6 separate regions of the Homo sapiens genome follow, and all the other regions are reported to be linked to region 4. The links are microRNA targets in miRTarBase. Many come from high-throughput screens and were not tested one by one. Region 4 holds a microRNA gene; each other region holds the end of a gene's coding sequence.

What was found. The annotated mature microRNA hsa-miR-190a-3p reads CUAUAUAUCAAACAUAUUCCU and lies in region 4 at 1,890-1,910, shown strand. An mRNA with a match to its seed (bases 2 to 7 or 8) in the 3' UTR can be bound and repressed. Matches are read on the target gene's strand: a 7mer-m8 pairs with bases 2 to 8, a 7mer-A1 pairs with bases 2 to 7 and ends in A, and an 8mer does both.
Region 1: the mRNA of HERPUD2 is a reported target of hsa-miR-190a-3p. The part of its 3' UTR that is shown has no 7-base or 8-base seed match.
Region 2: miRTarBase lists NRIP1 as a target of hsa-miR-190a-3p. Seed matches in the 3' UTR shown: 7mer-m8 at 1,709-1,715, 7mer-A1 at 3,191-3,197, 7mer-m8 at 3,769-3,775, 7mer-m8 at 3,771-3,777, 7mer-m8 at 3,773-3,779, 7mer-m8 at 3,775-3,781 and 11 more.
Region 3: miRTarBase lists ZC3H12C as a target of hsa-miR-190a-3p. Seed matches in the 3' UTR shown: 7mer-m8 at 1,283-1,289, 7mer-m8 at 1,285-1,291 and 7mer-A1 at 2,404-2,410.
Region 5: the mRNA of LRRC63 is a reported target of hsa-miR-190a-3p. Seed matches in the 3' UTR shown: 7mer-m8 at 903-909, 7mer-m8 at 905-911, 7mer-m8 at 907-913, 7mer-m8 at 909-915, 7mer-m8 at 911-917, 7mer-m8 at 913-919 and 14 more.
Region 6: the mRNA of AP1AR is a reported target of hsa-miR-190a-3p. Seed matches in the 3' UTR shown: 7mer-m8 at 1,291-1,297, 7mer-m8 at 1,293-1,299, 7mer-m8 at 1,295-1,301, 7mer-m8 at 1,297-1,303, 7mer-m8 at 1,299-1,305, 7mer-m8 at 1,301-1,307 and 1 more.

Annotation. Positions count from the first base shown.
Region 1 is chr7:35,628,947-35,634,115 of GRCh38, forward strand. It overlaps HERPUD2 (HERPUD family member 2), which reads right to left. Exons shown (of 9, transcript NM_022373.5): 9 at 3,713-4,905. The coding sequence ends at 4,744. LOC101928421 (a long non-coding RNA gene) reads right to left here and starts at 2,679. Exons shown (of 5, transcript XR_007060285.1): 1 at 1-2,679.
Region 2 is chr21:14,960,607-14,965,810 of GRCh38, reverse strand. It overlaps NRIP1 (nuclear receptor interacting protein 1), which reads left to right. Exons shown (of 4, transcript NM_003489.4): 4 at 1-4,576. The coding sequence ends at 1,095. Among named protein-coding and RNA genes, the nearest start is that of ASMER1, 45 kb to the right of the region's middle.
Region 3 is chr11:110,165,065-110,170,268 of GRCh38, forward strand. ZC3H12C (zinc finger CCCH-type containing 12C) reads left to right here. Exons shown (of 6, transcript NM_033390.2): 6 at 1-5,204. The coding sequence ends at 673. Among named protein-coding and RNA genes, the nearest start is that of ZC3H12C, 74 kb to the left of the region's middle.
Region 4 is chr15:62,822,119-62,827,322 of GRCh38, forward strand. It overlaps MIR190A (microRNA 190a), which reads left to right and starts at 1,839; the gene lies at 1,839-1,923. The region is part of intron 54 of TLN2 (talin 2); the gene reads left to right.
Region 5 is chr13:46,275,928-46,281,131 of GRCh38, forward strand. LRRC63 (leucine rich repeat containing 63) reads left to right here. Exons shown (of 10, transcript NM_001282460.2): 10 at 663-1,188. The coding sequence ends at 876. It overlaps LOC105370194 (a long non-coding RNA gene), which reads right to left. Exons shown (of 3, transcript XR_941946.4): 3 at 1-785. It overlaps LOC124903170 (a long non-coding RNA gene), which reads right to left and starts at 3,914. Exons shown (of 2, transcript XR_007063785.1): 1 at 3,859-3,914; 2 at 2,497-2,968.
Region 6 is chr4:112,267,804-112,273,007 of GRCh38, forward strand. It overlaps AP1AR (adaptor related protein complex 1 associated regulatory protein), which reads left to right. Exons shown (of 10, transcript NM_018569.6): 10 at 341-5,204. The coding sequence ends at 606. Among named protein-coding and RNA genes, the nearest start is that of TIFA, 15 kb to the right of the region's middle. RefSeq lists an enhancer at 3,576-3,695.

The DNA of each region.
Region 1 (5,169 bases), not on the chromosome of region 4:
TTTGCTTTTTGAAATGTTTAAATATTGAAACATCCAAAATACTAATGTGGATAAAATACAACAAACTTGCTTTGTACCCACCATGTGTTTGGTTTCTATCACTTTCCCAAGCTGCAGTTCCAATGTGCAATGCTAGCAATACCACCGGCAGAGGTGAGCCAGCTGGCCAAATTGGGCCTCCCAGGAATGATCTGGTAGATGAGAACACCACAAGCCAGAGCCTGGCAGTTTTGCACATCCAGCAACACCATTCCAGATACTGCAGGCCTCAGGGTCTGACGTACACTGGACTTCGAAAAAGCTGATGTATCACGTCATATTGTAGTCTTTTAACGGTGAGGCAAGGCCGGACGCAGTGGCTCACGCCTGTAATCCCAGCACTTTGGGAGGCCGAGGCAGGTGGATCAGGAGGTCAGGAGTTCAGGACCAGCCTGGCCAAAATGGTGAAACCCCATCTCTATTAAAAATACAAAAATTAGCTGGGCGTGTTGGCAGGCGCTTGTAATCCCAGCTACTTGGGAGGCTGAGGCAGAGGTTGCAGTGAGCCGAAATAGTGCCACTGCACTCCAGCCTGGGCGATAGAGTGAGACTCCGTCTCAAAACAAACAAGCAAACAACAACAACAAAAAAACACAGAGGCAAGAACTGCCACTGGGACTGTGTATTTGAAGCTCCAAATATGGCCTTTCCTGCCACTAATTTGAAAAGCCTAATTTCAATAGCGATGGTAGAAAGAGCCAAGGAAAATAGTTACAATACTGGTGAGCTGTGGCATCTAATTATGTCACCAAAGTATGATGTGAATGTCTCCAATTCTCCAGCCCTCCAGATCACCCTTTTCTTTTACCTATCTAACATAAATCTGACCCTCTCACTGTAGGTCTAGTCTTTATGGTAATGTATAATAATGTAAGAAGTCCTAGAAGTGTTTATATTCCAGAAACATATATCCTGGTTGTTACTAGTCACAATCTGGCCTTGAGACCAGTGTTTGGATTACCCCAGCCACCTAGGTACCATCTGGCCCCAGTATGGACACAGTCCCTCCCTGAATCATCCAAAACACAGCTCACATTGGGCTGTAGTTCTTGACAAAGACTTAATGAATGTGAGGCTAACAGAAGGGAATTAACAATGTAGGAAAAATAACAGTGGCTCACGCATTTCAGTGTTCTTAGAACCTGTGACATCCCTTCACAGGAGTTTATAACCAGGACCTTTCTCCTTAGGCCCCACCCTGCTGCTAGGAGGCAGGGACTTGCTCATTTCCTCCAGAGGGGTGTCCCCACAATGCTGCCCACCCCCAGTGAGATCTACAGCTCCAATTATCTTCTCTCCAACTTCCAACAGAAATGAAACTGATCAGTCTCACAATTAACTCTGCATCCTCTCCCCACCCTGTACCTGGCTTTAGGCTCTGACCCATGGGGCATTTCTGCCAGCTTTGATAGTTTATCTATTTAGCTCCCAGGTTAAAATCCAGACCTTTCTTCTGGATGCAATAATTACATCAGTCTTGAAATAAGCCATCCCTAATCATGGACCCAAACAGTGTTCAAATGTGGCCATAGCTCACTCTGCTGAACATCTGCTAATTCTGATTTTTTTCCTAGTAACCAACAATGCAATGAATATCTGGAAAGCTAAATCTCACACATGCATGACATCCTTTCAAACTTCTGCTGGCACTCATCCAGGACTGAACTAAATACCAGGTTCTCCCCAACTTCATCCCTTCTATATGGTGAGAGAAACAAGGAAATAAATGTAAACTGCAACAGTGTTAAAGGCAAAGTAATAAACTGTGCTTCCAGGGAAAAGCCTCCCAAAGAATTGGCAATTATGCTGAGATCTGATGAGTCATTAGTGCTAGTGAGGCAAAGAAGGAAGAAACTGTGTGTGTTTGCAGCAAAAAGAACAGCAATTTAAAAAGTCCGGGGCTGGAAGGTGCAGGAATTGGAAGAGCAGCCTAGCTAAACCAGGAATTAAGGAGGAGCTCAAACTGACAGGAGGCGAGAGCACAACCTTTCAGGATTTTGTAAGCCATGTTCATTAGTCTGATTTGTATTCTAGGAATAAGAGGATGACAGTGAATGATCTGTGCACATTTTGAAAATCTGATACTTGCTGGAAAGGCTATATTCTGTTTTACATTCCCCTACAGTTTCACCAACACTAAATATCATCTTAAGAATATGGTAGTTTTAACTACTGGATACTACCTTTTTTCATCTTTATTACCCATTTCCTATTGGAGTGCTTTTTTTTTTTTTTTACTGGATACAAATTATTTTTTACTGGAATGAATTTAAGACTTCATTTATTACCTTTTCTATCTTTTGTGCTCTAATTATTTGCCTTTAAATTACTTATGTCAAAACATTATATACTCAGCAATCTTTAAAGATTCTGCCATAAAAGTGTTCTCTCACTCCAATGTTATATATTCACCCACATTTTCTTAGTATTTCCACGATTTGATTGTTCATATTCAATCATGTCTTGAAATTTATAAATAGAAATCTAACTTTACTTTTCAAACGCTTAACTAAGCAGTCATCCCTGATAATGTCACTTTTATCATTGTAAGTAAACAAATCAGAAAATAATTTATTGATGTTTTCTTAATCTTCTACTGTTATCTAATCATATATAAATATATATAAATATATAAATTATATATATAAATATATAAATATATATAAATAAATTATATATATAAATATATATAAATATATAAATTATATAAAAATATATAAATTATATATATAAATTATATAAATATATAAATTATATATATAAATTATATAAATATATAAATTATATATATAAATTATATATAAATATATAAATTATATATATATATTATATATAAATTATATATAAAAATTATATATAAATATATAAATATATAAATTATATATAAATATATAAATATATAAATTATATATAAATATATAAATTATATAATATATAAATATATAAATTATATATAAATATATAAATATATAAATTATATATAAATATATATAAATTATATAATATATATTTATATATTTTTATATTTATATATATAATTGTATAATATATATTTATATATAATTATATATTTTTATATTTATATTTACATATAAATATATATAATTATATAATATATATTATATATTTATATTTATATGTAAATATATAAATATAATATATAATTATATATAATATATAAATTATATATAAATATATACAAATTATATATATAAATATATATTATAATTATATATAATTATATAAAAATATACAAATTTTTATATAATCATATATAAATCATATATATAATCATATATATATAATCATATATAAATCATATATATAATCATATATATATAATCATATATATATATTTTTTCCCCTGGGCCACTACCACATTCATAATTTTATAATGTATTTCATGTGATATAAAGTTCTCCCACACATATTTGTTTTATTTAGCTATCCCATAAGAAACTTACTGCCTTCTCATGATACATTAAATTGGCTTTCACAGGGATTTTTAAATAAACTAATGAGGTTTCAATCTAACTAGGAGATATCCATCTGGAATGGAAAGAGGTGTAAATGACCTTTAAGACTTCAGCAACCCTTCCAAACAACTACTAAAATTTACATAAATGTTTGCATGTAATGGGTGAAGAGTTTGAACAAATATCCCATAAAACTGTTTACCATAATTGACTTTTTATTTAAAAAATTACACGGAGCAATTTCCAGCTTATCTTTTTTTATAAAAGTACTGCCTATATCAAACATTTTATATCACGTTAATTCCATTGAAGAGCTGCCTTTTTCTGTTAAGGTACTGATTCCAATTGATGGGATACATGCCCTTAATACAGAAAGTTTCCATTATTTATTCAAATATCAAAATTAAGATTATTGAGAAGTTTATTGCTTTATGGCTGGGCAAGATGCTACTAGCACATTTTAGGTAAATAATATTCTTTATTAAAAACTATGAGGTCATTCTGTTTAAAACTTTCAAGATAATTCACGGAAAACAGATATATCTATTCAAATTAAACATTAAAGGGCCAGGCTACTAGCTATAGACATTTATATGTGAAGCAGCTCTTTTTTTTTTTTTTCTGAGACCGAGTCTCACTCTGTCGCCCAGGGTGGAGTGCAGTGGCCCAATCTCAGCTCACTGCAACCTCCGCCTCCTGGGTTCAGGCAATTCTCCTGCCTGAGCCCCCCAAGTAGCTGGGATTACAGGCGCGTGACACCACACCCGGCTAATTTTTTTGTATTTTTAGTTAAGATGGGGTTTCGCCATGTTTGCCAGGCTGGTCTCGAACTCCTGACCTCAAGTAACCCACCCGCCTCGGCCTCCCAAAGTGCTGGGATTACAGACGTGAGCCATGGCGCCCGGCCAATGAAGCAGCTCTTTAAAGAAATAAGACATGAAAATAGGTCTGTCCTGGTATACTACACATAATTGAAATGAGTAACACCTGGAAGACCAATATTGTTACGCTATGTTCTGTTAGGATCTTTAAAAAAAAAAAAAAAAAACTCAGATATTTAGTAGTCCATTCGTGCTTAAAATATTCATATGCATGAGAAGCCTAAAGAAAAAAAACACCTCTGTACATGATGATCAAAAGAAAGTTATAAATTTTTTTGAAATTGCACTGTTATTTAAACCACTTTCCTGAAGTCAGACCCTCCTTGTAGCTGGCACAGTTTTTCAGGTCAATTGGCAACCTGGGGAGGCCCCTCTGGTATTAGTGAAGTAAAGAAGGTGGTGATGAAAGACCAAGCTGAAGCCATTAATCCAGGCCTTTGAATTGCACTGGCATCTTCACCTCCATCTTCTCCACTCTCATCTTCAAGCCCATCATCCATAAGACGCTCCTTTCAAGCAAAACAAGAAAGATACTCCTGAGTGATATGAACGAGCATTAGCTCATAATAGAATACAGTTAAATTCTTTGTAGAACAAAGGACTATGAAGTGGTATGTATGTGGTCATTAGAAATCTTTAAGGCCAAAATTGATAAATTCCTCACTGTTCCGTAAAGGGGACAACTGCCAATGCAATACAATAAATTCTTACCATGTGTATAATTTTATTTCTAGGCTATTTTCAAGAAAAAAAAAGTTACTTCTTCCCATTTA
Region 2 (5,204 bases), not on the chromosome of region 4:
TTACCAGTGTCCGAAGACTTTAAATCGGAGCCTGTTTCACCTCAGGATTTTTCTTTCTCCAAGAATGGTCTGCTAAGTCGATTGCTAAGACAAAATCAAGATAGTTACCTGGCAGATGATTCAGACAGGAGTCACAGAAATAATGAAATGGCACTTCTAGAATCAAAGAATCTTTGCATGGTCCCTAAGAAAAGGAAGCTTTATACTGAGCCATTAGAAAATCCATTTAAAAAGATGAAAAACAACATTGTTGATGCTGCAAACAATCACAGTGCCCCAGAAGTACTGTATGGGTCCTTGCTTAACCAGGAAGAGCTGAAATTTAGCAGAAATGATCTTGAATTTAAATATCCTGCTGGTCATGGCTCAGCCAGCGAAAGTGAACACAGGAGTTGGGCCAGAGAGAGCAAAAGCTTTAATGTTCTGAAACAGCTGCTTCTCTCAGAAAACTGTGTGCGAGATTTGTCCCCGCACAGAAGTAACTCTGTGGCTGACAGTAAAAAGAAAGGACACAAAAATAATGTGACCAACAGCAAACCTGAATTTAGCATTTCTTCTTTAAATGGACTGATGTACAGTTCCACTCAGCCCAGCAGTTGCATGGATAACAGGACATTTTCATACCCAGGTGTAGTAAAAACTCCTGTGAGTCCTACTTTCCCTGAGCACTTGGGCTGTGCAGGGTCTAGACCAGAATCTGGGCTTTTGAATGGGTGTTCCATGCCCAGTGAGAAAGGACCCATTAAGTGGGTTATCACTGATGCGGAGAAGAATGAGTATGAAAAAGACTCTCCAAGATTGACCAAAACCAACCCAATACTATATTACATGCTTCAAAAAGGAGGCAATTCTGTTACCAGTCGAGAAACACAAGACAAGGACATTTGGAGGGAGGCTTCATCTGCTGAAAGTGTCTCACAGGTCACAGCCAAAGAAGAGTTACTTCCTACTGCAGAAACGAAAGCTTCTTTCTTTAATTTAAGAAGCCCTTACAATAGCCATATGGGAAATAATGCTTCTCGCCCACACAGCGCAAATGGAGAAGTTTATGGACTTCTGGGAAGCGTGCTAACGATAAAGAAAGAATCAGAATAAAATGTACCTGCCATCCAGTTTTGGATCTTTTTAAAACTAATGAGTATGAACTTGAGATCTGTATAAATAAGAGCATGATTTGAAAAAAAGCATGGTATAATTGAAACTTTTTTCATTTTGAAAAGTATTGGTTACTGGTGATGTTGAAATATGCATACTAATTTTTGCTTAACATTAGATGTCATGAGGAAACTACTGAACTAGCAATTGGTTGTTTAACACTTCTGTATGCATCAGATAACAACTGTGAGTAGCCTATGAATGAAATTCTTTTATAAATATTAGGCATAAATTAAAATGTAAAACTCCATTCATAGTGGATTAATGCATTTTGCTGCCTTTATTAGGGTACTTTATTTTGCTTTTCAGAAGTCAGCCTACATAACACATTTTTAAAGTCTAAACTGTTAAACAACTCTTTAAAGGATAATTATCCAATAAAAAAAAACCTAGTGCTGATTCACAGCTTATTATCCAATTCAAAAATAAATTAGAAAAATATATGCTTACATTTTTCACTTTTGCTAAAAAGAAAAAAAAAAGGTGTTTATTTTTAACTCTTGGAAGAGGTTTTGTGGTTCCCAATGTGTCTGTCCCACCCTGATCCTTTTCAATATATATTTCTTTAAACCTTGTGCTACTTAGTAAAAATTGATTACAATTGAGGGAAGTTTGATAGATCCTTTAAAAAAAAGGCAGATTTCCATTTTTTGTATTTTAACTACTTTACTAAATTAATACTCCTCCTTTTACAGAATTAGAAAAGTTAACATTTATCTTTAGGTGGTTTCCTGAAAAGTTGAATATTTAAGAAATTGTTTTTAACAGAAGCAAAATGGCTTTTCTTTGGACAGTTTTCACCATCTCTTGTAAAAGTTAATTCTCACCATTCCTGTGGTACCTGCGAGTGTTATGACCAGGATTCCTTAAACCTGAACTCAGACCACTTGCATTAGAACCATCTGGAGCACTTGTTTTAAAATGCAGATTCATAGGCAGCATCTCAGATCTACAGAACAAGAATCTCTGCTAAGTGGACCTGGAATCTTCCATCTGCATCTTAACATGCTCTCTAGGTGTTTCTTGTGTTTGAGAACCATGACTTATGACTTTCCTCAGAACATGAGACTGTAAAACAAAAACAAAAAACTATGTGATGCCTCTATTTTCCCCAATACAGTCACACATCAGCTCAAAATTTGCAATATTGTAGTTCATATATTACCGTTATGTCTTTGGAAATCGGGTTCAGAACACTTTTTATGACAAAAATTGGGTGGAGGGGATAACTTTCATATCTGGCTCAACATCTCAGGAAAATCTGTGATTATTTGTGTGTTCTAATGAGTAACATCTACTTAGTTAGCCTTAGGGATGGAAAAACAGGGCCACTTACCAAACTCAGGTGATTCCAGGATGGTTTGGAAACTTCTCCTGAATGCATCCTTAACCTTTATTAAAACCATTGTCCTAAGAACAATGCCAACAAAGCTTACAACATTTAGTTTAAACCCAAGAAGGGCACTAAACTCAGATTGACTAAATAAAAAGTACAAAGGGCACATATACGTGACAGAATTGTACACAATCACTCCATTGGATCTTTTACTTTAAAGTAGTGATGAAAAGTACATGTTGATACTGTCTTAGAAGAAATTAATATATTAGTGAAGCCACATGGGGTTTCAGTTGCGAAACAGGTCTGTTTTTATGTTCAGTTTGTACAATCCACAATTCATTCACCAGATATTTTGTTCTTAATTGTGAACCAGGTTAGCAAATGACCTATCAAAAATTATTCTATAATCACTACTAGTTAGGATATTGATTTAAAATTGTTCTACTTGAAGTGGTTTCTAAGATTTTTATATTAAAAATAGGTGTGATTTCCTAATATGATCTAAAACCCTAAATGGTTATTTTTCCTCAGAATGATTTGTAAATAGCTACTGGAAATATTATACAGTAATAGGAGTGGGTATTATGCAACATCATGGAGAAGTGAAGGCATAGGCTTATTCTGACATAAAATTCCACTGGCCAGTTGAATATATTCTATTCCATGTCCATACTATGACAATCTTATTGTCAACACTATATAAATAAGCTTTTAAACAAGTCATTTTTCTTGATCGTTGTGGAAGGTTTGGAGCCTTAGAGGTATGTCAGAAAAAATATGTTGGTATTCTCCCTTGGGTAGGGGGAAATGACCTTTTTACAAGAGAGTGAAATTTAGGTCAGGGAAAAGACCAAGGGCCAGCATTGCTACTTTTGTGTGTGTGTGTGTGGGTTTTGTTTTGTTTTTTTGGTTGGCTGGTTGTTTTCGTTGTTGTTAACAAAGGAATGAGAATATGTAATACTTAAATAAACATGACCACGAAGAATGCTGTTCTGATTTACTAGAGAATGTTCCCAATTTGAATTTAGGGTGATTTTAAAGAACAGTGAGAAAGGGCATACATCCACAGATTCACTTTGTTTATGCATATGTAGATACAAGGATGCACATATACACATTTTCAAGGACTATTTTAGATATCTAGACAATTTCTTCTAATAAAGTCATTTGTGAAAGGGTACTACAGCTTATTGACATCAGTAAGGTAGCATTCATTACCTGTTTATTCTCTGCTGCATCTTACAGAAGAGTAAACTGGTGAGAGTATATATTTTATATATATATATATATATATATATATAATATGTATATATATATATATTGACTTGTTACATGAAGATGTTAAAATCGGTTTTTAAAGGTGATGTAAATAGTGATTTCCTTAATGAAAAATACATATTTTGTATTGTTCTAATGCAACAGAAAAGCCTTTTAATCTCTTTGGTTCCTGTATATTCCATGTATAAGTGTAAATATAATCAGACAGGTTTAAAAGTTGTGCATGTATGTATACAGTTGCAAGTCTGGACAAATGTATAGAATAAACCTTTTATTTAAGTTGTGATTACCTGCTGCATGAAAAGTGCATGGGGGACCCTGTGCATCTGTGCATTTGGCAAAATGTCTTAACAAATCAGATCAGATGTTCATCCTAACATGACAGTATTCCATTTCTGGACATGACGTCTGTGGTTTAAGCTTTGTGAAAGAATGTGCTTTGATTCGAAGGGTCTTAAAGAATTTTTTTAATCGTCAACCACTTTTAAACATAAAGAATTCACACAACTACTTTCATGAATTTTTTAATCCCATTGCAAACATTATTCCAAGAGTATCCCAGTATTAGCAATACTGGAATATAGGCACATTACCATTCATAGTAAGAATTCTGGTGTTTACACAACCAAATTTGATGCGATCTGCTCAGTAATATAATTTGCCATTTTTATTAGAAATTTAATTTCTTCATGTGATGTCATGAAACTGTACATACTGCAGTGTGAATTTTTTTGTTTTGTTTTTTAATCTTTTAGTGTTTACTTCCTGCAGTGAATTTGAATAAATGAGAAAAAATGCATTGTCTCTGGTTTGAAATGACTGTTATTTTGTGGGCTTTCTCTGGTTTTTAGGTTTTCCATAAACGTAAAACACATTGCTATGAATATAACAGTGATCTTCAAGGATGTTTTGCCCTTCTTAGAAAAATAAAGGGGACAAAAAAGAAGGTGGCTGGCAAGTTAGTGCACTAGAAACAGGGTAATTAAGGCATAACTCAAAGTGACAATCAGCCTATGGCCTTTCTCCCATGATTCAGTGTGTAACTAGTTGATCACTGTAAATTTTTAAACTAGAAAATAGTTTGTGCAGTATTCAAAATTAATGTTGACTATATGTATATACATACACACTTCATTTTAGGATAAGACTTTATCAGAAGGCTTTTATCCAGTTTTTAATGGGTGTGGTTTATTTTAAATAAAAGAAAAAGGAGTTTAATAATTTTCCAAAAATGAATGTGTATGTATATACACGTGTTTACATGTTTAAATATATGCTGTATGTGTATAGGTAATGAGTAATTGATAAGCAACATACATACTCAATAAGTATTAGAGACCAGTGGATTCCAAGAAAAAAAAAAAAACTTTGTACCCAGGTAAACTTAACAGCTTAGGAATTTTTATTTTTACAAATAATGATAATTTATGAG
Region 3 (5,204 bases), not on the chromosome of region 4:
GAAGTGTCAACACATGCACCCTCACAGCCGCCTTAATCCTCAACCGTTCCTGCAGAATTTCCACGACCCCTTAACCAGAGGGCAAAGTTACAGTCACGAAGAACCAAAGTTCCATCACAAGCCTCCTCTTCCGCACCTGGCTCTGCACCTGCCGCACTCCGCTGTGGGCGCCCGGTCCAGCTGTCCTGGCGACTACCCCTCTCCTCCAAGTTCAGCACACTCTAAGGCACCACACCTAGGGAGGTCCTTGGTGGCCACGAGAATAGACAGCATCTCTGACTCTCGACTTTATGACAGTTCTCCTTCACGACAAAGAAAGCCTTATTCCCGCCAGGAAGGCCTGGGAAGCTGGGAGAGGCCAGGCTATGGGATCGACGCCTATGGGTACCGGCAGACTTATTCCTTGCCCGATAACTCCACACAGCCGTGTTATGAGCAGTTCACCTTCCAGAGCCTCCCTGAGCAACAGGAGCCAGCCTGGCGGATCCCATACTGTGGAATGCCGCAAGATCCCCCGAGGTATCAAGACAACCGAGAAAAGATTTATATCAATTTGTGCAACATCTTCCCCCCTGACCTTGTGAGAATTGTCATGAAAAGGAATCCTCACATGACAGACGCCCAGCAGCTCGCCGCAGCCATTTTAGTGGAGAAATCCCAGCTGGGTTATTGAAAGATGATGCATCTTTGTGGTGTTTAGTAGTTTTTTGTTCAGCTCAAATGCTGAGGGAGGTTTGCTACAATAGCACATGTGATCTCCTTCTCAGCAAGGAGGTTATATAGTATCCATTTATGTGAAATACTGTATCATGGAATCTGTATGTATAGCCCCACATGGTGGAAGTATCACGGGATTGCTTTACATTTAAACTTTTTTTTTTTAACATTTCCTTTTTAAAGCTATATCCTTGGCTGGAAATTTTTCCAGTTTGATTTAATAGATGTATCTGTGATCTTTGATATTAATCTTTGGTGCATCAGGGGTTTATATGCAGCACTTTTTATCCTTGTTTTGTGTTTTATTAACTTGGTGTTTGTCTATCAATTGCAAGCAATTACAATACCTTCAGAATGTGGGACATTTGACTAGACCTAGCAAACTGTTTTTTCGAGCCAAGCTTAGTTAGACTCTTTTACAGCTTTTTAAGTTATTTTTATTTGGGGAAAGTGGGCTTCTTTGTGCTATAATCATTATTTATAGAAACAAAGTTATACTACAGCACTGACTTTATATTTTAAACAGAATGTAAGTTACCAGTTTTATGTTGAAATGTGTTACAGTATATATATATTAGAATGATTTACAATATGGCACTTTTCGATGTGTTATTTTTGTTTGGATTTTTTTTTCTGTTAAGAAATTAGTTAATTTAATATGGTCAATTTAAAAGAAAGCAGATGCAATCAATGGAAAAATGTTTCCATTTTTTAAAAATGAATAAGGCAAAAGCTGTAACTGTTACAGGTTAGAGCTTTGTTATCCAGCTATGATGTGCTTCTTGACAGTAGAAGTGGAATTGAATTCCTAGATTTCCATTAACCTGTATTTTTAATATGTCTGTCTTTTTGTTTTGGGGCACAACAATACTGGATAAAATAACCCTTTCACAGCACTTGCCTGTTTTTAATGAATCTAATTATTCACAATGCAACTTTTATATTTAACATACTCTTTAGCTTTCCTGCTATTTATCAAGGCTGGCCTGAGGTGGGTTTATGTGTTGAGGTTATGCAACATTTCTTGATACTGCACTATAGAGAAATGGTGATGGAGGAGTTGTAAATGGTAACTTAAAATTTTTGTAAGATATTGTATATTTTCCATTTTCCTGAAGGTAGTTTTCTTGGGGGGGCCTGTTATATTATTAAGGCCAGACTCTTGCCACAAATAGTGTAGTTTTAGATACAGACTAAGGTCTGTTCTAGTATTAGTAAGGGATATTTCTGGTTTCAAAGTCATGGGTTTTGCTAGTGGTGAATACATTTCTGCGGAGTAGAAGATAGATTTTGCAGTCAGTGGCAGACAGTTGTGTGATTGACATCACTTGACTGTTGCGTCCAGGTTTTGAATTGTACTTCACGTAACAGATGCATTCAGATCTTTTTCTGTAGTCTGCTTAGATGCCCTGGCTATTCTGATTATCCTACATGCTACAGTTTGAAGTGAAGCCCTGAAAAACCAGAAAGTACCTTTTACTGTTGATACAAATTGTATCTTTTTAACTATAAGAACTATTTTGATTTGTAGATCTAGTTAAAACACAAGTATGTAACTATGATTAGACTTTTGGGCAACATTTTATCCCTTATTTAAATACAAATTTTTAAAGTAAAATTGAGGTCTAGAATAGATTAGAAAATAAAAATAACAATTTAGATAAATAGAAATGTCTGTCTTAGTTTTATATAATATATTAAAACACAGTAAATAAATTTATTGGCATTTTCTTTCTCCTAAAACTTACCTAGTGTGAACTTAAAATAAAGGTAAAATGCTGCCTGAAAATAATGTCCAAGCACCTTTGACTAGGATAACATTTTCACTACTTGTGTGACACTGTGTGTTGCACGAAGTAGGATTTGGGTATACAGTAAATGCTTCTAAAAGGCATTGTGCATATTGACATAACCAATAATCTGAACCGTGTTCAGCAAACTTAATTCAGGAAAGTGGTATTCTACACAATTATTGCTGTTGTGTTTGAAATGAGTGTGGCACTCATCTGTATCCAGAAATAATATGGGTGAGGCCACACAACCCATTCTGAGTGGTGTCTGTCTGAAAGCAACCCTACTCGCATGTGAAATTGTTCTCCTTGATTTGGTCACTATAAAGCAAGTTTAAATGTAGAGGCTAACTCAGTGCCAAAAACAGGGTTACAAATGTGTAGTATCTTTTATTTTAGTCATATTCTAAGACTTCTTTTTAGTATGAAATCACTTTTAAATTATACATGTAGGTTTTGCTTCCATTTTCTTCATTTTACCATTTTAATTATTTGAACATTCGCCAAATTTTACATTTATTTAAATGAGATCTTAGGTGAGATGTGTGTGACACTTTGAATTTGACCTTCTTGTGTTATTAGCTGACTATTTGTCATTGCCTCATGGATTTTAAATTATGGGAAAATAGTGTAGCCAGCTGCCACCTCTACTGAAGTGAGTAGCTCTGAACTACCCACACTAAATCCTTCAGTGTAATTAATTATGAGTTTAAAAATAGCAGTTTTCTTATGTGAAGAGGACAGTTTGTCCCCTTTTTTTGAAGCACCGATGTTGCGTTCAGAGCTGTAGAATGAGATAATTGGCAGACTTTAGGTACAGCAAATTCTTACTTATCTAAAGCAATAAGTCAAAGGAGTCCATCATTAAATTAAATCCATAGCTGATCACAAGCCTTCATTTTAGCCAAAACTTTCTCTCTAACCAAATCTTTTACCAGACTTGCTAATAAATAACCAGAGAGATGTGTTAATAAGTGAAGTTGCCAGAAATGGTCAACTGATCGGAAAAAAAAGGATTCAGACTGGAGTATTTTGCCCCTGAATAATTGACAGTTGACTGTGCTTTACACAGTAACTAGCCAGTCTGTTGTCTCTGTGTCTTAGTCCAGAGGGAATAGTACCCAATTGGCCAAATACTGGCCCTTAGTATCTCCTCCTTTCTTGCATGGGATACAGACGTTTTCAGTCTTGTTTTTATGATCTCTCTCTATATCCTGATAAGAGTTTGTCATTGACTTACACATTTGGAAGAAATGCACACCAGTGTAATATATTTGATACTGGTGGAAACTTGAACTTTGTGTTTTTATGAAAATTCATTTATGAGAATATGTAATATAACTGAAGAGTATTTTATGTATATCTATATACACAAATATGTATTTGTTATGAGGTATTAAAAACAGGGGTTGGGGGGAGTGCTTCTGATGGCTAACTTTTCTCTAATTAAACTATGTTTCTTTGAGTTGTGAACGACCGAGTCTGGGGTCTGGACGGCCAATGATAAGATTTAGAACCACTTGGATGGAAAGCAGTTCTTCACTGGTTTTATTCTTGGTATTTTCAAAGAATTATTTTGATATTTTTAATAGAATGTGTAATTTTAAAATACACAAAAAACTTAAAGTAGTATTGATTATACAAATAATTATTTAACATGTCTTATGGATGTATCTATATGTATATAGACAGTAATATATTTATAAAACAAATATACTTTGCTTATGTTATAGCTCTTAGTTTGTGACAGGTGGGAGGATGGCTCTGGGTGTGTGTGTGTGTGTGTGTGTGTGTGTGTGTGTGTGTGTGTTTTGAAAACTCTCAAGCTGTTTTCCCTCTGATTTACAATGGTATTTACTTTAAAGTATGTTTGGTTTTCATTATTCTTTTTGCTCTCCAACTTCCTTATTCAAGATAAAATAAGACATACAGTTTTCTGGCCATTCTGTTGGTGTGTGGTGCACCCATTTTATTGTCATCTAACTCCTGGAGAATTCCCACGTGACCTGAAATCAAACAGATTCTGGCTGGACATATGCTTATGTTCCAAATATATTAAAGATGTTAATTCAGCTAACAGTTAAGTTTCCAAGGTATACACCAACAAATAAAATGAGGTATTAAAAAGAGATGGATTACACACATGCATTAGAATAAGAGAAAACAGTAGTGTTAATAAAAGTAAAGAAACATACACTATCTTAGCCCCCTAGGGCAGGGGTTGACTTTTTCTGTAAAGGATCAGATAGTAAATAATACAGGAATCATATGGACTTCAAATGCCATTGTAAAAACTACTCAGCTCTGCCTTTAGAGCATAAGAACAGCCACAGATAACATGTAAATTAGTGTGGCTGTGTTCCAATAAAACTTTATTTACAGAAACGGGAAGCCGGTCAGATTGGGCCTGTGGGCCATAATTTGCTGATCTCAAGCAGTAAATCCTGGTATATGTTAATAGAAGAAATCATAATTGCATTTCAGTTGACATTAAAAGAAAATCTGGTAGTTTTTGATGTCCTTCAAAAGAGGATTGTTAGACATTGATGTTAAAGCATCTTAATTCATTTGAGTTTTCTTACCTGTTTACACCCATTATTTATTAGAGATATTTCTTGTGTTTAACCACAAAAAAAAGCACTCTGTTAAAATGTTTTAATATGTATTGAATTTCTTTCATAAACTTTTCATTTCTGT
Region 4 (5,204 bases):
GGGTCCTTCTGAGCTCTTGTCTGAGTCCTGGTTTCCCCGTGTCTGGTCGTTCACTTCACGACTCCAGATGGGAAAACAAAATTATTAAAGTTCCTACCCCATAGGATTATTGTTATAATAATTAAATAAGATAGTATAAGAACACTGCCTGACATACAGTGAGACTTGGTAGATAGTAACTATATCACCATTATTATCACCATCATCACTGAAAATGTGTGTCTGGGACTTACTCCCTAGGAAATGCCTGAAATAAAAATTATTCCACTGGCCCCTGAAGAAAGAAAACCAGGAAGCTCGCGTTGTTCAGCTGCCAAGCCTGTGCCAGGCAGTCTTCTGGGTACTTTATGGGAGTCACTCATCTGATCCTTGGAAAAAGTCCATTAGAATCAGAAGCACCAAGAGGCGAATTACCTTGCCAGGGTCCGACCACTGTCACTCAGCTGGGAGGGCTATGTATGGCCCTGGGTGGCAGTTTCAGTCCATACCAGCCCCTGTTTCCCACCCCATTGTCAGAGAAGGCTTGTCTAGTCCCACAAAGGCCATTTGTAGTTTATGTGTGCCCTTAGAGCTACTCCTCGAAGGAATATTATGCAGCTATAATATTATGCAGCTATGAAAAATAATGGTTGCTAGGACTGTGTAGCACGAAGAAAATGCTCATGGTATAACAGAAAGGATGCAGAATTATGTACTTATTATGATTACAACTCTAAAAACTCACAGATGAAGAAAATAAGTAGGGAATGTACAAGAATGATGATGGAATTGGGATGATGGAAGGGTCTGTGTTTTAACATTTTATAAAACAAAGGTTTAAAAAATAACAGCACCTTAAAAATTAATGACTGCTGAAGTAGGCCTGTGAGGACTCCCTACAGTACTCTAGGATCATATAGCCTTTGTGTTTACATTGAGGGTTTTTACAGGAAAGCCAAGGAGTCCTTCGGCCAAGGTCAAGGTTAACATAACTGATGATGTGAATCCTTTGTTTGAGGGTTCCTACCTTAGCTCACTCCCATCGTATTAGGAAGGGTGATGGGTACTTCTAGAATGCTTCACAATGGTCTGAAGTCTTTCTCTGCCTGATGGCCAGAGGTGGATATTATCTATGAAACTGTTTTGGAAAACCTGCAACCCAAACCATAGTTTTTGTGCCTAATAGGGCACATTGCAATAACTTTTGCATGAAATATCTTCCTTGCCTTTATAAAGGAATTTATTTCCCCAATTAAAAAACAATAACAACAATCTGCACCAAAATCAGCCAGTCTTTTGAGTTGAATCACTTCTCTCCATTCTCTCCCAAAACCTTAAAAAAATCCTCAGGGTACTGTCAGTAAACAATTGCTTATTACATCCCTATAACCCTACCCTGGTACACACACATGCCTTCAGTATAAAATGGATGTGTGTTCCTTCTGGGGAGTATTCACACTGCTTTCAGGAAGAGTTTGGGGAGAGACAGTAATTTTGTCTAAAATGCTCTGCTCACCACCGTCTCAGGTTGCCTGTTTTTAAAGGAGAATGGCTCATGGTCTTTGATGATGATTCTGGTACATTTCCACCTCAGGCTCTTAAAACTTAAGCATCACTTTTTGCCTGGGATCTCCCAGACATGCACCGTTGAATCTGCTGTTCACCTGGGGAGATGAGAATGTCAGTGAGCGCTGGTGCATGTGCTGACAGTATTGTTAATGGCGCCGTTTCCACATCTGCAGGCAGACTTGTGCTCCAAAGACAGTTATCGGAGTTGCTGCAAAAGTGACCACCCCCTGCAGCCGTAACCTTCAATACTGTGCCTAGTCTCGAGCTCAGTCAAACCTGGATGCCTTTTCTGCAGGCCTCTGTGTGATATGTTTGATATATTAGGTTGTTATTTAATCCAACTATATATCAAACATATTCCTACAGTGTCTTGCCCTGTCTCCGGGGGTTCCTAATAAAGTTTATAAGGCAACAGGAAAGAACACGTTAAAATCACAAGTAGATTTAGAAGATGGAGCACTCATTACAATTCATGTTATCTTCCATTTCTTCTTATAGCATTTGAGACCTGTATCAGTATTACTGGATTACTTGCTTATTATAGAAACAATAAGTGTTGATGTTTCATAAGAGCCTGGGGTATTCTGTGTGGCTTAGTTTTGTGCAGTGATGAATCCTTAAGGAATTCAATATGCTTGGTGGAAAAAACGGTTCCAACCCATGTCTGTGACACAGAATAAAGGTCAGGATTATAGCCTCAAACACATCTAGATTCATGTTTCATTTTGGTTCATTTTTATCCTGATCTTCAATTTAGAAGTTCATGTCAGGGTTTCAGCAAAAATTCAAGGAGCACAGATCAGTTTTCTATGACTTCCCTTTCCACTCACAGTAACAGAATGTATAAAGCAAATCCTCCATACCAGCTGCATGGATACTGAGTCAGTGAGCTTTGTACAAACCTTGGATATAGGACTAAATATATCTCATGAAGGTAATATAATGTTGACTGAACTCTTGAATTTCCTGTTATAGGTTAACTTGTCAGTGGAGGTTGGTAATATTTAGAATAAGCCAACAATCGGAAAGTAATATCATAGCCTAATTGACTGTGGCAGGAAGTTTGGGATTATGATATAGAAAACATTTTTTCTGGTACATAACAGCCTTCTTTGGTTGGTTTTGACCTCTTCCTTATAGAAAAGCCTGTGAAGTATGTGTGAGTTCATTCTGAGTTCTCTCAACAAACAAAATACTTTGTGAGCACTGCTTTCTGGAAAGAGAACTACTGTTCTCAATGTTTTGGAGGAGAAAAGGTGTAAGCAAATGGTTTAAACAGGTAGTCATGAAAGCTTCCCCTTACTGTGTCTAGAAGTCATTGCCACATTGCTTACAGGTGAATGCATAGTGACAGGGTCACCAACAGCAACATCAGAGAGGTGATGACACAGGAGAGGGTCCTGTAATGTTGGAGTCCTGGCTTCTGGAGTTACATAATGGATCCTGTCTCTGGAATCCTTCTCCATTGAGAAGCGATCTGTGTGTGTTGGCAGGTGCTCTGTCAGGCGGGTTTCAAGATGCTGCCCCAATCAGTCCCTCCTTCACACAGCTAGAGAACACCGGCTTTGGTTTTGAGTCCAGTTACATTGTTTGACTGAAATGGCAAATGGCCATGGAAAAGAGACAGCAAGTTATTACGAACAAAGAAAAACATGGTTTCAAAAGGACCTGCAGACGAAGCCCAGTTGTTTGAATTGATGTGATTTTCTTGTTTCTTTGGGTGACTTTGTCACTGACCAGCATGTTCTCTGTAGTGATTAATATGGTGAAGGGAAAAAGGAACCAACTGTTCAGGAAGGAGGAGGACAAATACAGCATTTTCTGTATGGCTGCACTTGGGCTTTGAGTGGCACTCATTGGTTCCAGACCAGGAGCATACAGGGTGTGAAAAGCAAGTATGGGGCCGGGCATGGTGGCTCACACCTGTAATCCCAGCAGTTTGGGAGGCCAAGGTGGGCGGATCATTTGAGGTCAGGAGTTCGAGACCAGCCTGACCAACAGCTGGGTTTCACCCAGTCTCTACTAAAAATACAATATATATATAAATATAAATATATATAAAAATATATTTTTATATATATTAAATATAATTATAATTATATATTATATAATATATTATATATTATAATATATATTATATATTATATTATAATATATATTATAATATATAATATATATAAATATATTATATATATATATATTTATATATATATATAATAAGTCAGGCATGGTGGTGCACGCCTGTAGTCCCAGCTACTCAGGAGGCTGAGAATCGATTGAACTTGGGAGGCGGAGGTTGCCGTGAGCCGGGATCGTGCCACTGCACTCCAGCCTGGGTGACAGAGTGAGACTCGGTCTCAAAAACATAAATAAATAAGAAAAGCAAGTATGGGAGACTCCCCTCCAGGGTAGACCAGTAGGTCCTTGTCAGATCCTTCACAGACACAGAAAGGGGGCTTAAGATGTAGGGAGTTTATCTGATACAGCTTGGGAAGAACCCTGTTATCTTTTGTCTGTGCTTTCTATATCGACATTCAAGGGCCCCTTAAACAGAAATAGTGATTAAAAGATTATTTCAGTGGCGTTGCTTTCCATTTTGAACACAAAAGTAAAGCAATGGATACTATGGGAAAACTACTCCCAAGATACTAATCATGCAGGTGCGGACCTTTTCCAGCAGACACTGCATGAACTCGCGCGTATTCCTCGGATGCGGAGGGTGTGGTCCCTCCCCAGTCACAGGCACAGCCATTTGGCAGTTTCTCTGCCACCCATTTTGCCTGTTTAAGGTCTCTCTGGAGCTTTCCCTGAGACAAGGCCAGCTGTCCATGCCTGGCTCTTAGCAGTTCCAGTTGTTCTGGGAGGTGTACCTTTTGTTTGAACTAATAAAGGTGGCAGTCCTGAAGCCACCCCATCCATGGGTCCTCCAGAGGAGAAGCTGATCTAACCTTTGCACAGTTTGGGGCTTTGCATACAGGCTAAGGCCTCCCTCAAGGCACCTCTCAGTTCAATACCAGAAGCAAACTAGTAGCAGCCAAACTTGCAACAACAAAAAAAAAAGAGAAATGTGGCTGCCTGCTCCACTCCGGCTTCCAACTGGCAGGAAAATGCCTCACTCCTGTTGTGGGAGTTCTAGACACTGGCCTCCTTTTTTCCCTCAAGGACATTTAAATTAAATGCAAAATGTTCACACTTTAAAAAATATATATCCAAGAGGGTTTTTTTAAAGTTTCTGATGCACTATGACCTTATTTTTAGTAGCAGGCATTCTGCAAGACTCTGAGTAACACAGAGCAAAGCCTGAGACCCCACTGGAAAGATGACACGGGTGGTTCTTCAGTTTGTGGAGCCAGTTGTGAGAAGGGCGACCATTGTGTTTTTAGCTCTCAACAAAGCATTCCCTCAAAGTAAGTTTTCAGGGAGGGAGGCAAGCCCTTTGGCCATCTCCTATGCATGCCTTATGCTCCTTCACCTTCAAGTTCATTGGCGGAAGGAGCTGTGGGGTTGCAGGGCATAAGAAAAGGCCAAGAAAAAGACCATGGGAGGACATTCTCTTCCCCTGCCCAACACTTGCCCAGGACCTGACAAGGACAGTGAGCAGGGGAAGTGGGTAAGGACGTTGAGGAGGAGCGGGGGCAGTGGGGGATGTTGGTAAG
Region 5 (5,204 bases), not on the chromosome of region 4:
GTTTAAATACTTAAACATATTCTTATAATCTGATGATTGTGAAATGGTATTTCTTTGCTATTTTGTTTTGTATTCCCCGATTACTAGGGAGATTGAAAAGCTTTACCTGTGTTCTCTTGACATTCATTTTTTCTTCTTCTGTGAATAGTCTATTCCTGTACTAATGTTAATGTACTAATGGATTAATATTTTTTAACTGATTTCTAACCATTTAAAAATACATTATGGACTCTAATTCCATACTAGGTTATGATAGTACCTTTATTTTTTTAAATGATATATTTATTTTGTATCATAAAAAATAACATGTTTATTATAAAAAATTAGAAAATAAAGAAACACATTATAAAGAAACATAAAACCCCTGTGATCACATTTCCCAAGAATAATAACTATTTTCAATTTGGGATCTATCATTAGAGTTTTTTCTTGTTATGCATATATACCTTTCTGTTTTAAAAAGCTAGGATTGTATTATACATATACCTACTTTATTGTTCAGCTTTTTTAGCGTTTAGTCTTTCACTTAATGGGTAGCACTCACCTAGCTGGTAAGCTCAATGAAGGTAAGGGCAGTATTTTATACTATTTGGAGTCTTGCATAGCACAGAGTCTTTAGTAAAAATTTATTAAATATTGACTTGCTGTTTCCTCCATTTCAGCACATCCAGGTGTGAATGGTGTCATGGTCCCAAGTTTGGTGAAGGTTTTCGTGTCATCCGATCCTGTGATATTTTTGGAGCATCACAGCTTCCAGTTATGTTTTATGTCTGTTCTCCTTCTTGCTATAGAAGAATAAAGGAAAGCAGTTTTGTTTTAGATGGTAGTCCTAGTAGAAGAATAGCTCTAGATGTGGAGTTGTCAAAAGAATTATAGTACAATGATTTATCGTATGTGTGTGTATATATATATATATATATATATTTATATATATATATATTTATATATATATATTCATATATATATATAAACTTTACTGGCTTTTACTGCATATATATCTGCATATAGTAATTCATCTCTTTGAAAGTAGAGGTTCTGTTTGGAAGACATAAGTGTCTTCTCATACGAATTATCTTTGTAATTCTAGCTCCTTATGAAAGTTTGTGATTGTTTGGGAATTGTTGCAGAATAATTACTCAAGGAGGATTAGTAAAGCCTTTAGATTTGAATAAAGCTCTAGAAAATTTCTTTCAGAGCCTGTTTACTATAAAAGGAAAAATGTTGGAATCCTTTGCAAAATGGGTTATGTCTTACAACTGGTCTTTTCATGCATCCATACTAAGTGATGAGATAGCATTGCAGAGTCATCAGTGGGGTATGTGCTGCATAGAGCTTCAATGTCACACATCCAAGTGCTCAATGCTTGTGCATTTCTGTGGAAATCTGACCAGCACCTTCCATCTCAATTGTAGGTTGTTTTGGGGAATAAAAGATTAATTCTATCCCCATTTGTTTGTTTAAATTAATGTCCCAGGTTCTTAGAGAACTGGTACAGTCTTTAATTGTTACCTTGAACTTCATGTCCTAAAGCTGAGCAACTGGACATTAGTCTGATTCCATAGGCTAGCACCAGCATCTACCAAGGCCTACAGTGATAGCCTGACACAAAAATAAAATACAGCTTACAAAATAACATTGCAAAGCAGCATATACATATAGTAAAACTTACTTTAAGAATTAACGTTTGGTAAGAGAAAGATAAAAGGGCATTTTGATATACAAACAACTTTAGAATGGCATAGAATTGTTTCACATATCTTTACACACAGTTCACTTAAATCTCAAATATCATTGCTAAATTTAGTGATATGAAATGATTTACACAGCTATCATCATTAATGTCAGAAAATATACATTGTCATGTTTGTGTGTATCTTTTAGTGATATCATTTAAATAAAGATAAATCAGGCAGAATAATTTTTCTATTGATTTCAATAAATTGCAATGCTTACACGCTTTTCCTTGAGACTCTGTTTCATTTTTCAGCAGAATCAGGTAAACTTTACTTTGCTTGATAAGTATACACTATATTCTCCAGCATAAGAATAAAATTATTTATAATGAGAGAAGTAACTACCATATTACACATGCATGCAGAAAGGGATATTTATAGTATGATAAATTAATTCATTAAAATGTAATATACTCATAATTAGAAAACAAGATGAAGAAAATAATACTAACTCCCTGTGGCATATAGTTTATTAATACTCACCCTTGTTCCTGAAATATTTCTTGGGGAAGAAATATGTTTATTTATTTATTCAAAACATGTTGGGTTTTGGTTTAACTGAGTAATTTCTCAATGAAATAGGAAATAAAAAAGAATAGCTTTCAAGGGAAATGACAAATTCTGAGGGACGTTTCAAAACTAAATATACCTAGATACTTAGACAAATATGAAATATACTTAGAACCCAATCTCTTCATGCTTAGTATAAACCTTGAATCTGAGTGATCTCTTATAGATCTTCCAAAAAAAGTAACTTACAGTATTTTTTAATGAAAGTAAGACATATTTATTATAGAAATATTAGAAAATACAACTAAACCTAAGAAGAAAACAAAATCCTCCTTGTAATGCCTCTGTAACTCAGGTTCAGTCATCCACTGCTTGCAGAGTCTGAATAACAAGAGCAAGGTCTGGTGGGAAAAAAAAAGTGACTTAATTCAAGAGCTACCCGAGGGGAAGTAGTACAGGCTCCTGCCCTGAGATACCACTTCAGCCTTCAGGGCAGAAGGCAAGGGCTTTTAAAGGGGGGATGGGGAGGAGGGGAGGAGGTGCGGGGTCTGTGTGACTTGCTTCAGATGTCTTATCTATCATGTGGTCTGGCTGGCGCCATGGCAGGCAGCTACGTTGTAAATTGAGGCAATCTCTTAGTGGGTGAGAGTTCCAGAGGGGCCTGATTTGCTTCAAGTTTTGGTCTCTGCAACTTCTAAGTAAACACATAGATAAGCTTGCCATACCTGATGGAGAGAAGGTAAAGGTTATAATTGCATTCCTAAAGAGCTAAGTAGGAAGCGGGGGAAAAGGAAAAAGAAAAAAAAATCATTTTTTTCCTTTTAAAAATGGGGTACTCGGCTACACCATCAACCAATGAAAGTCAGAGGCAATCATTTCAACATGTGTATGTGTGCATACATTTGTGTAATACATATGTGTAATACATTTATATAATGTATTACTTTTTTTAAAAATGGGATTATCTGCCTCACACCACAACAAAGATTAATTTCCAATTTTAGGCCTAAAGGTCTAAGTTGAAATATAAAAATAAATAGCTATGGTCTTTAAAAAATCAGATTTAGATTTTTTTAAAAGCGGGTAATGAAACCTCAAAGAAAAGATGAACAAATTTACCATGTAAAAAATTTTTAAATGTCTGTCGAGCAAAAATAACCAAAAATAAAGACAAGCAGCACACTGGGGAACATATCTATACTATATATGACCAGAAAGAATGAGGTTTTCAACAACAACAACAACAAAAAATATATATATATGTTGTGCATGTGTCTCCTGGCACAACTCATTCAGGACTCAAACTGTGTCATCAAGGCATTATCTAGTTTTCTGTCTATCTAATCTAGCTCACTCTATCTATTTATCTATCTATCTATCTATCTATCATCTATCTCTTACCAATACTTTCTAAAAATTTTGTCTCATATCCAGGTAATATGGATGGTCACTAATCATTCCAGGTTCATGTACAAGAATCTCAGGAACCTCAGAGGAAAACACACTGTCTATCCCAACTGTTACTGTAAAATACATTAGGGATGATTTTCATTGGCTCAGCCTGGGTCACAAATCCAAATACAAACAAATCATTAAAGCTTCATGGATGGCATACCCTGGCCAGGCCTGAGTCACATGCCCATCTCTGGAACTGGGTAAGGCAGAATTAGCCCCTCCCAAAACATACTAATTAGATTCTCCACAAGAAAGGAGAATTCTAGAACTGAAAACTAGGGGAAGAAAAAGTGTTTTGGACAGCTAAAATCTGGAACTGTCAGAGACCTCTAAAACATCCTGACATCCAATAAGCTGTTACAAGTAGCAATAACAACAAAAGATGACCTTAATATAGCTATAACAATCAACATTTAATTTTTGTTTTTTACCATAATAAGTCTAATAATTTTCTGCTAAAAAATACTTGTGCGTATGTCTAAAAATATATTCAAGTATACTTACCACCAGGATATTTACAATAGTGAAAAACTGGAAACATTCAAAGAGTTCATCAATATGTATGTAAATCCATACAAGGCACTATCATTCAGTCATTTAAAAATTAGATAACTGTTTCCTTAAATGGAAAGATATCTACCAACTAGTTTTTGAAAAATATTTACTAGGTAACATAGTCACATAACTCAAAAGGTACAAAAAAGTGTATAGGATAAAAATTCTTTCTTTAACCCTGATGCCTGGCATCCTTTTCCCTTCTCAGAGACAACCAATGATATCAATCATTTTGTATTCCAGGATAGCTTATGCATATGTATGCTAACATATACATATATTTCTTCCTTATCTGTATAATATTAGCATAATATATACTCCTTTCTGCATCTTTCCATTCAAATTATGTCATAGAGGTTATTCCAGATCAGTACATTATTAGTTTATGTTCTTTCTTTATGGTTTCATATTATTCCATTGGGCAAACATATATAGCTTATTTCACCAGTTTACTACTTGATGGACTTTTAACTTTTTAACCTCTTGCTTGGAAAAAAATGTTGTGATGAATAAGTTTGTATGTTTACATATATCTGTGGTATAATTTCCTGGAAGTAAATTGCTGGGTCAAAAGGTATGTTCATTTATATTTAATTGGGAGTTGGGAAAAATATGTATTTATTTGCTTTTTAAATAGGTAATACTAGCATACTTTACCCAGCTCAAAAAAGATTTAAGAGTGAAAAGTCTATTTCACATTAATTTCCTTCAGATGCCCACATATTGTTAACCAGCTTCTTGCATTTACTTAAACACTAAGTACCTATAAGGATGCAGCTGTATATAGAAGAATTTTCCTTATTCCAGTAGTGCTTTTTTTTGTATTATATAATTTAAGAACAGCATTAGCGTCATTCATACACTTGTTAAAAATATGGATTCTCAGACCTACCTCCAACCTACTAAATCAAAATCTCTGGGAATACTATCCAGGAATCTTAATTACTACCC
Region 6 (5,204 bases), not on the chromosome of region 4:
TTGGCAGACATACTAACTTGGCTATATGAGACTAACAGCAGTTGAAATCCTCCATCCATTCTGTTTTATTTATGAGTCTTCAGGAATTTCATCTTATCGGATAATCGATGCATCAAAACTGCCCTTTGGTGACTGTTAATATTTATTTTTATCTGAGGCATACTTCAGGGTTAGAACCCAACAATTTCCCTTAAGAAGGCCTCCATGGGACTGGGTCTTTAAGTTAATTCACACATCAAGTCTGATAGTTAAATAAAAACTACATTGCTAAATTTGGGAGTTTTTAAATATAGCTTTATTATCTGTTCTGAGATTTTTGAAAACTCTGTTCAAATCATAGGAATGAATAGAATGCTTCCAATGAGAGAACGTTCCAAAACAGAGGAAGACATTCTACGGGCAGCACTTAAGTATAGCAACAAGAAGACTGGAAGTAATCCTACATCAGCCTCTGATGATTCCAATGGGCTGGAGTGGGAAAATGATTTTGTTAGTGCCGAAATGGATGATAATGGAAATTCCGAGTATTCTGGATTTGTAAATCCTGTATTAGAACTGTCTGATTCTGGCATAAGGCATTCTGACACAGATCAACAGACTCGATAGGGTAAAATTGTGTGACCTTGTTTATCAGTTATGACCAAATGTTAAAAACCAACTAGAATGTATAAGTGATTGTGCTTAGCCTTTTTGTAAGGGAGATGTGTAAGAAACCATGTTGTAAATGCTTATTTTATTACAAAGGAGTAGGGATGATAGGATCTGAATTGATACAGAATTAAGTGCAATTTCATCATCTGCCTTCTGCTTTTCAAGACCAATTTAATGGTCCTGTCATGTTACTGATTAAATTTACTTTGTCTTGTCTTTATAGCATTTCTGTTTACTATGGTAGATTTCCACTTTCAATTTTTAAAATTAATTTTACTTTGAATGATTTATGAAGCCTATTTCATTGTCTAACTATGAAAATATTAAGACTTTTTTGTTAATTCTCAGCCGATGTGAAGGAAGCATGAGGAGGGATCGTCAGATTCAGATTTAGAATAGTGTTCCCGTTTCCAGCATTATTTATTTCTATGACTTCTTTGGATTTTATTATCTAATAGTAAGTACAGTTGATGTGGGTAGATGACTCTAAGAAATGCTGAAGTATCGGCATTACATGTGTTTATTTACATGTCCTAGTATGATAATGTTGATTCAATCTGAACAAAAGATAATATAAAAATAACCCTTCAGAGTTTGGACATTTCAAGTTGGTAATAATAAAAAATAATATTTAAGAAGATATATATATATATATATTTAGTTTTTTCCACTTCATTTTACATGCCACTATATTGACTTTAATTGATATACAGTATTAAGTTTTTAGGTGCCATTATTTTTAAAAAATTCTATATTTCCAATGAACGATGTTAGATTTTACACAGAACATATTCTCTGCATGATTTCAGAAAAGAAAATCTAAAAAGGTAATACGGGTATTTCAAATAAAATCCTTTCTGGTATGAAAGGCTCCATTGATTTTATTAAGCCTTCCTTTACCTTGTAGTACAAGGTGCTTTAATGGGATAGAACTAAGCATATCAATATCTATAACTGCATTTTGTGCTAGACAATTACTGTTCTTTTCTCTAAAATGTATATGTCAATTTACAAGGCCAGGGATAGAAAACACTCCATAATTGCTTTCCTTGATTTTGCTGAGGATTTGGTATGATTTTAGTAAGCAAACTGTTTTTTGGTTTTTCCTTAATGTTTTTAATTTTTTTTCCTCTTGCAACAATGACGGTGCATGTTCTTATAAATATAGGAAGGTCCAGATATAAATAGTAACCTAAAGTTCTTGCTGTGCTTAAAAAAAAAAATCATGTGGCCCTTTCAATATTTGAACTGCTAAGCAATGACATCTGTAGTTTTATCTCCTTTTTTATGTCATAGAAATTAATATGATACTTTAAATATGTAAATATAATACATTAGGTAATGCTATTATTTATATCTGTCTTAACATAATTTAAGTTGTAGCTGTGTCTTGGAAATATTTTTAAGGTAATCTATATTCACATTGCCTGTGTTAATGCTTTTTAAAGTTTGTATACATCAGATGTATATTTTTGGTTTGGCATAAGCTACGATTGTAATTTTTCTTGGCTTTTTGTTCATAAAGAATTTTTTGAAGGAATGGTAACAAATGGTAATTTACAAATGGTTGTGAATAAACACATTTTTACACTTAAAGGTAATAAGTTATTTGACTATTATTGGTTTTACTCCATAAACATGCAGGTATTCTGATTCCTGACTTGTAATTATTTTATTAAATCTGATGTGAAGACAAAAGTAAATTAAGAAAGCAAGATGGAACTAGAAAATGTGTTTTAACTGTTAAAAAAAAGTTAACGTTTTGTTTTGTGTTTATAAAAAGTACTAGAAATAACTTATTCAGCAAATATTGGAATAGTATTTAATATTATTGGAACTGTGTCTGGTGGGTGTTAGGGACATAGAAGTACAAAGACATATAAGGTCTCTGCTCTTTGCTTACCATTCTGGTGAGAGAGAGAGACAATAATAAGTAAACATACATGCAAGAAAATCACAGGTCACAGTTAGAAAATATACAAGATTATAGGAGAGAGAGTAACTGGGGGCCAATTGACTACTTCTCATAGGTCAGGACAATCCTCTCTGAGGAGATAGCTTGGCTAAAACTTAATTGTTTTAAGTTTTAGTTGTTAACTTGTTAATTGTTTACTTGGCTAAAACCTAATTGTTAAGCAGGAAACAGTCAAGTAAAACCTGGTATGAAGCATGTTATAAGCAAAGGGAACGGCAAGTACAAAGTACCTGAGGTGGGAAAGAGTTTGTTATGTTCTGTGAATAAAAAGACCACTGGGAATGAAGCATCATGAGTGAGGGGGAAGAGTGGTATGAGATGATACTGGAGTGGTAGTTAAGGGCCAGATGATGCAAGACCTTGTAGACCAAGAATGAGTTTTATTTGATGTGTAATAGAAAGCCACTGAAATTTTTTGTAAGCAAGGATGTACAGTCATCATATACACATTTTCAAACGATTGCTTTAGTTGCTGTGTAGAGAATGGATTGTAAGAAGGCAAGAGTGGATATATAGCACTCCCAATGGAATATAGTGTGCCTTGGGTTTACAATGGCTGTGAAAAGGCAGAGCAGATTTGTTTTAGAGGTAGAATCATCAGGATTTTCTGATGGGTTGGATATAAGACTAAAGGAAGGGGTAGAATCAGATACTACTGTAGGGGTAACACATCTGGCATGGTGCCGTGGCTACCTTGCTCACTGCACATAGTCCACGTAGGCAAAACTCAACCACAGTCTGACACAGGTCTTGGTAGAAAACATCGTGATCCTCTCTGGATCCTCCATGGCAAGATAGGCCATCGTAAAGGAGCTGTCAAAGGGCCATTTATCTTGCAAAATACCTCCCTGTCTTGCAAAAGGCTGCCGTGAGGCAATTTCTCATCCAGCTGGTTTCCAGTGACCTCACTCTCATTCAGGTGCAGATACCGACTATAAAAATGTTTAGCTATAGTTTAGAGTTGGCTCCTCAACAGAGCTATTTCTACTTGTCATCTGTCATCTTGTCCCCTTGGTTCAGTGTCATCCAGGGATGTCCCTAAGGACCAGGTATACAGGGAGCTGACTCCATCCTGATACTGCTTTTGCTGTCTGTGTAAATAATAAACTGTCTCAATCTATTTGGACTCATTGTCTCCCTACTGGCCAAATCTATAGATGTCTGACAGCCAGCCTAGTAGCTGCAAGTGCCCTTAACTATAACTTCTTGGTTCTGATTTGACTTCAGTGTAATGGGAGGAACAGGTTTGGGAAAGTGGGGAAAATGAAAGAGTTCTATTTGAAAAGTTAACTTTGAGGTGTTCATAAGATATTTGGATGAAGATGTCAAGTAGGTGATGGGATATATGTCTGCAGCCCAAGAAAGAGGTCTAGGTTCAAGTTTGGGAGTCATTAGTAGGAAAATGGTATTTTAAGTCATTAAACCAGCTGAGTTCACCCCAGGGGAGCACATAGGCAGAAAAGCCCCACTAAGTGTTGACATTTAGAAGTTGGGGGTAGTGAAACAGTCGTCAAAAGAAACAGATACAGGAGGAATGCAGGAACCAGAGAATAGTGTCACAGGAGCCAGGAAATAAGAGGGCTCAACAATAGCAAATGCTTTGAAAAGAGGTCCGCTGCTTTAGTTGCATTTGGAGACAGTTACACAAATGAAGGGATGGAAACTGGGGAGTTGGGGATGAAGAATAAAGAACAGCTAATGCAGACAATTTGAAAAGAGAGCAGAGAAATGGGGTAGCTGGAAGGGGATGTGGAGTTATAGAAGGGTTTTTATTTAAAAGATACTAGCTTTAGAGTAGATAGGCAGATATGAACAGGGCAGGACAGCGCCACAAAGACTGTGAGGGCTGGTGACAGGGAAGGGAAAATCTAACAGGAGACATCTTGAGCTCATGGGCAACAACTTCCCAATAAGAATTTAAGATGGCAGAGTTTGGCCTTCCTCTGGGGGCATGACCAGACATGCGCAGTAAGGGGCAAAATGACAGAGTTTGACAAATATATGACCTTCCCATGGGGCTTGGCCGGGAGTGCTAGCCCAGTAAGGGAAAATTGCCCTAAGAGAGCATGTGCATAACTTCAATCACCAAAAGGCCCTTCCAGATACTGGCAAACCACTGCACATACAGGGAGGGAAGAGATGGGGAAAAAAATAGGAAATAATAAATCTCTAAGAGCCCTAAGACAAAGGTCAAGCTGGGTACTCAATCTTTTGACGTCCCCCTTCGTTCCATCCAAGTGTACTTTTTTTTGCTTCAATAAACTCTTGTTTCTGCCTTAAATATAATTCTGTCTCTTGGCTGAATTCTTTCTCCCAAGAAGACAAAGATCAAGGACTATGGAGCGTGCCCATACTCACCACTGGTAACACTAGAACTTTTGAAATGATATATTTTGGAATTATGCCCGCTTTTTTTTCAATAGATAAATATATTTTTCTAGCAGAGGCCAGAGGTTTCGTTTAACTATGTAAACATGTCCTAATCATAATTTCTTGAGAATACAGACATCTAAAAAAGATTTTATGTTAAATATGTAGTGTTTTCCCATCTTCATTTATTTGGTATTTCTGGTTAATT